2 separate regions of the Homo sapiens genome follow, and region 1 is linked to region 2. The links come from fine-mapping of genetic effects on gene expression. A gene starts in region 2. The other region holds a variant in brackets. All regions are shown on one strand. Distances are between the middles of the regions.

Region 1 (2,928 bases), 24 kb after region 2:
TCAAAGACCAGTAGAAAATCTGAAAAGTAGCCAGAGGAAAAGATAGATTATTTTAAAAGGAACAACTTTCTAAATGACAACCTGATTTTCAACAGAAAAATGGAAAGTAGAATTCAATGGAATCATGTCTTTAGTGTGTTTCAAAAGAATAGAGGACCTTCATAAACAGAAATCCAAATGATATTTTTCAGATAAAAAATATTGAAAATACAAGGTTAAGCATGCAAGAAGGAATAAAAATTAACAGAAATGATAAATATGTGCATAATTCTAAATGAATGTTGACTGAATAAAATAATAGCGTCTTGCTGAGTTAAATATATTATTGATAAGATATATGCAAATAGCGATAAAGAGACTGGAGGTAAAGGTGACAGGAACAAATTTAGATAAATTATTTTTTGCACTTTTCTATGTCTGTGAGGATAATTTGAACACCACATTTAATGACCCCATAATAGGAATTGCATCAAATGATATGTGAAATAATGCTGATAGTAGTATTATTCATAATAGCTCAAAAATAGACTGCCCAAATATATATTAACTAAGGATGATTGAATGATATGAAAGATTACAGTAAATCCATACAGTGGAACAGTATATAGAGGTGAAAAGAAATGAATCACATGTACATGCAACTATGTAACTAAATTTCAGAAACATGATATCTAGTGCAAGAAGCCATGAACAAGAAGAACACACAGGACTGCACCTATACACAGTTCAAAGCAGGACAGACCAAGCTGTGGAGTTTAGGGTTGTGAACCTAGCTGGTAAAGTATAAAGAAATTCAAGCAAATGATCATCATAGATTATGAATATTGCTTATCTCAGGAGATGTGAATAAAGGTTTAGGGGCTTGGAAAGTGGCCTGGAAGTGGACCTAGTCTGTTTGCAGTGTTCCATGTCTTATCCTGCATGATGGTTACATAAGTGTTTATGATACATTGCTCTTACCTATTTTTGTTTTGGCCCATTTCTAAGTGTGCATTATAATTTTATTTAAAAAATTACAAATTGGGAGAAATGTCACGTAAAAATTATTAATTGCTCTGCTCATTATATACCTAGGGGGAAAATCCACCATTTACGTACATTCTTATACAACTCAAGAGAGCTAAAGTGAATTCTTATTTTAGTTGCAAAATGGAGAAATTTGAGATGCTGTTACCTACAGCCTCCAGATCTTTCCAAAAGTTTTCTTCTAGTTTTAGATATTCACCTCATATTACAAAAACTTTGATATTTCCAACCTATTTTTCCTTTGGCTCCTGAATTTCTGACACAACAAGGGCGCACATATTTCTCAAACTCTTGGATTAGCAGAGTACCTATATCACTTAGCTTTTTCTGCAAAAGAAACTTCTCCAAAACCACATTAGATATTTATATCTCACATGTTTTTGGATTCTGTTTTCTTAAGCTGGGGTTTGGTGGATGGCTCTGGTGATTTGAGATGGTCCAAGTTTTGCCTCTTGGATCTAGTTAGAGTTTGGCCGATTTAAGGCTGGATCAGGCAGG[A/G]GCCATATGATTCCATGAGTTACTCATTCTTATTCTGGGAACAGTGTGTTAGTGTGGACATGTTCTCATTATAAACCGGAAAGGAACAAGAAAGCCTAATGTGGAGGTCATCTCAAATTTCGATGTAAAGTGTAGTAATTTTCTGTTCATCAAAGCAAATTACATGATCGAACTCAGAGCCCTAGTGCAAGGTTGTCACTATGCCTGTGGTGGGAGGACACTGCAAAATTATGTGACAAAGGTCTGGTACTCAGGAATGTTTACAAGCTTGCAGGTAGCATTACCAAAAGCCTAAGCATGAGAGATATGTTTCATGAATATTATTCATTGGCTGAAAATCTGGCATGGGAAAAATAGGACTAATTCCACCAGGACGAGCTCCTGGAAACTCATTTTCCATGTCATAAGTTACAAGAAAGCAATTCCTTCCATCCTTGAAGAGTGAAAGTGTGTGTGTGTCTGTGTGTGTGTTTATGAGCTTGTTAATAGTGATGCCATATAGAAGTATTGGTTAACAGCAACCAAATTATAAGGAGTATTGGCTTTCCTGTGGTTTCCAAGAAAATCTTAGGTGATTTTGATAAAAAGTTTAGATTCTGTGTATTTAAATCTGGCTTTAAAAATAAATCCATAGTGATTTTGATCCTAGATTTCACCAGGCTCTTTTAACAATATATTTTTTGTGTCATCTATGTACTGGGTATTAAAATTTCCCCAACAACTGAAGGGCTGAACACAAATTATGGAAAGGTGAAACAAGGAAAAAATTGCAAAGCAATGAAAGAGGATATGTCTTTATTTGAATGCTAGCAAATGAGAATTCAGCTTTCCCTTCAACATCAGTATGAAAAATTTCAGCCTATAGCAAGAATAGAGACTTTATGAATAAGAATTAATTTGAGTTGTTTTGGGACTAACAGTATTTCCCATAAAGGCAGCATTGAACTCATTCATTAGTTTAAGCTGGTGCTTTTCTGTTGACATTGTTCACAGAATTTAAAAGTATAAAGAATGTTATTGGACATTCAGGAATCAAGTGCATATTTAACTTAAAGTCTTGAATATCAGAGGAGTCACCATCAGTGACATTAGGCCTGAATTTTTTACTTGCTTTTTTGTTTAGACATGATGAGTTTTCTACACATTGTTTTTTCCATTCTAGTAGTGGTTGCATTTATTCTTGGAAATTTTGCCAATGGCTTTATAGCACTGATAAATTTCATTGCCTGGGTCAAGAGACAAAAGATCTCCTCAGCTGATCAAATTATTGCTGCTCTGGCAGTCTCCAGAGTTGGTTTGCTCTGGGTAATATTATTACATTGGTATTCAACTGTGTTGAATCCAACTTCATCTAATTTAAAAGTAATAATTTTTATTTCTAATGCCTGGGCAGTAACCAATCAT
Region 2 (2,928 bases):
GCCCTACATGATGGTTACATGAGTGTTTATGACACATTGCTATGTTTTCCATTTTTGTTTTGGTTCATTTCTAAGTGTGCAGTCTAGCTATATGATAAAAATTATTAATTAGGAGAAATGGTCCATGAAAATTATTATTACTCTGCTCATTATATACTGAAGGGAAAAATCCACTATTTGTATACATTCATGTGTAACTCTAAGAGATTTTAAGTAGAAACTTTCTGATTTTAGTTGCAACTTTAGGAAACTTGACATGATGTTACCTGCCAACCACAGATTTCTGAATAGGTTTTTCTTTTAGGTTTAATTACCCACTTCATATGACAAAACTTGGACATTCTCTATTTTTTCCTTCGATCCTGAATTCCTGACACAACAATGGTGGGCATATTTCCCACACTCCTGATTTAGCAGAATACCTACATCACTTATGTTTTTCTGCAAGAGAAAACTGAGTTAGATAATTGTGTATCATTATGTCTTTGGATTACATTTTTCTAACCTAGGTTTGGTGGATGGCTCTGGTGATTGGAGATGGGCCACGTACTGCATCTTGCCGCTAGTTTGGCTGATTTAGGGTAGATAAGGCAGTGGCATTCTGACTCCATTAGTTTCTCTTTCTTCTTCTGGGAACAGTGTGCTAGCCAGATGATGTCCTCATGGTTAGTGGAAAAGAGCAGGAAACTTCAATATGGAAGCCATCTTAAATCTCTGTAAATTCTACTAATTTCCTGTTGACTGAAGCAAATTACGTGAGTGAATTCAGAGTCCAAGGTCAAGGTAGTCACCCTGCCTGAGGTGGGAGGGTACTGCAGGATTATGTGACAAAGAGTAGGGTACTTAGAAATATTTACAAAATTGCTGAACATTTTAATTAAATAATTAATGTTTAAACAAAACAGACTTGAGTGTAAATATACCAAAGGCCTAAGCTTGAGAAACATGTTTGATAAATATTATTCATTGTCTGACAGCCCTGAGTTGGAAAATAAGACTAATACCACCTGGATGAGTTCCTGGAAACTCATTTTCCATTTGGGGAATTATAAGAAAATAATTCCTTCCATGCCCTAAGGGTGTGAGTGCATGTGTGTCTATGTGTTTAGGAGCTTATTAACAATGATGTCATATCAATTTATTGGTTATCAGAAACCAGATTTTAAAGTGTATCAGCCTCCCAGGGATTTCCAAGATAATCTTGGATGATTTTGATAAAAGGTTTAGAATCTGGTATTTAAATCTGGCATAAAAATAAGTCCATATTGGTATGATCCTAGTTATGACCAAGCTCCTTTAACAATTTAGACATTTACTATATGATATATGTATTGGGTTTTACAATTTCCCTATGGAACAACTGAAGATGCTGTATACAAATTATGGAGAGGTTAAACAAGGAAAAAAATTGCAAAACAATGAAAAATAATATGCCTTTCTTTGCATACTAACACATGAGAATTCATTTTCCACTTCAACCTCAGTATAAAAAAGTACAGCATATAGCAAGGAGAGAATGTATATGAAGAGGAGTGAATTTGAGCTGTTTTGAGAATAATGACCTTTTCTATTTCTATAAAGACAGTTTTGAATTCATCTATTAGCATATGCTGGTGCTTGCCTGTTGACACTAGTCACTGAATTTAAAGGCAGAAAATGTTATTGCACATTTAGTAATCAAGTGTTCATCGAAGTTAACATCTGGATGTTAAAGGACTCAGAACAAGTGTTACTAAGCCTGCATTTTTTTATCTGTTCAAACATGATGTGTTTTCTGCTCATCATTTCATCAATTCTGGTAGTGTTTGCATTTGTTCTTGGAAATGTTGCCAATGGCTTCATAGCCCTAGTAAATGTCATTGACTGGGTTAACACACGAAAGATCTCCTCAGCTGAGCAAATTCTCACTGCTCTGGTGGTCTCCAGAATTGGTTTACTCTGGGTCATGTTATTCCTTTGGTATGCAACTGTGTTTAATTCTGCTTTATATGGTTTAGAAGTAAGAATTGTTGCTTCTAATGCCTGGGCTGTAACGAACCATTTCAGCATGTGGCTTGCTGCTAGCCTCAGCATATTTTGTTTGCTCAAGATTGCCAATTTCTCCAACCTTATTTCTCTCCACCTAAAGAAGAGAATTAAGAGTGTTGTTCTGGTGATACTGTTGGGGCCCTTGGTATTTCTGATTTGTAATCTTGCTGTGATAACCATGGATGAGAGAGTGTGGACAAAAGAATATGAAGGAAATGTGACTTGGAAGATCAAATTGAGGAATGCAATACACCTTTCAAGCTTGACTGTAACTACTCTAGCAAACCTCATACCCTTTACTCTGAGCCTAATATGTTTTCTGCTGTTAATCTGTTCTCTTTGTAAACATCTCAAGAAGATGCGGCTCCATAGCAAAGGATCTCAAGATCCCAGCACCAAGGTCCATATAAAAGCTTTGCAAACTGTGACCTCCTTCCTCATGTTATTTGCCATTTACTTTCTGTGTATAATCACATCAACTTGGAATCTTAGGACACAGCAGAGCAAACTTGTACTCCTGCTTTGCCAAACTGTTGCAATCATGTATCCTTCATTCCACTCATTCATCCTGATTATGGGAAGTAGGAAGCTAAAACAGACCTTTCTTTCAGTTTTGTGGCAGATGACACGCTGAGTGAAAGAAGAGAAACCCTCAACTCCATAGATTCACAAGGGGAGCATCGTGGGTCTTCTAGCAGAAAACAAACTGATGGTGTCTGGAACATTTTATATTTCTATCAGTTTTTCCATAGTGTTTGTATGTGAGTAATTTCAAAACAGATACCTAGAAAAGTCATATATATATTTATGGGTGTATATGTGTGCATGTGTGTGAATAACAACGTTGACCATAAATTATGAAGCTGAGTATATTTCACATATATAGTATTTATATTTTAT

The links. PIP is the estimated chance that this variant, and not a neighbour inherited with it, causes the effect. A credible set is the group of variants that fine-mapping cannot tell apart.
Region 1: its variant is the best candidate, but not a certain one, in a credible set for the expression of TAS2R19 in spinal cord (GTEx, PIP 0.55).

Annotation. Positions count from the first base shown.
Region 1 is chr12:10,997,597-11,000,524 of GRCh38, reverse strand. The region is part of intron 3 of PRH1-TAS2R14 (PRH1-TAS2R14 readthrough); the gene reads left to right. TAS2R20 (taste 2 receptor member 20) reads left to right here and starts at 2,221. Exons shown (of 1, transcript NM_176889.4): 1 at 2,221-2,928. The coding sequence starts at 2,650. The region is part of intron 3 of PRH1-PRR4 (PRH1-PRR4 readthrough); the gene reads left to right. It also overlaps a transcript of PRH1 not described here. The variant A/G (reference allele first, on the strand shown) is at 1,525.
Region 2 is chr12:11,021,406-11,024,333 of GRCh38, reverse strand. TAS2R19 (taste 2 receptor member 19) reads left to right here and starts at 1,714. Exons shown (of 1, transcript NM_176888.2): 1 at 1,714-2,715. The coding sequence starts at 1,763. The coding sequence ends at 2,662. The region is part of intron 3 of PRH1-TAS2R14 (PRH1-TAS2R14 readthrough); the gene reads left to right. All of the region lies in intron 3 of PRH1-PRR4 (PRH1-PRR4 readthrough), which reads left to right. It also overlaps a transcript of PRH1 not described here.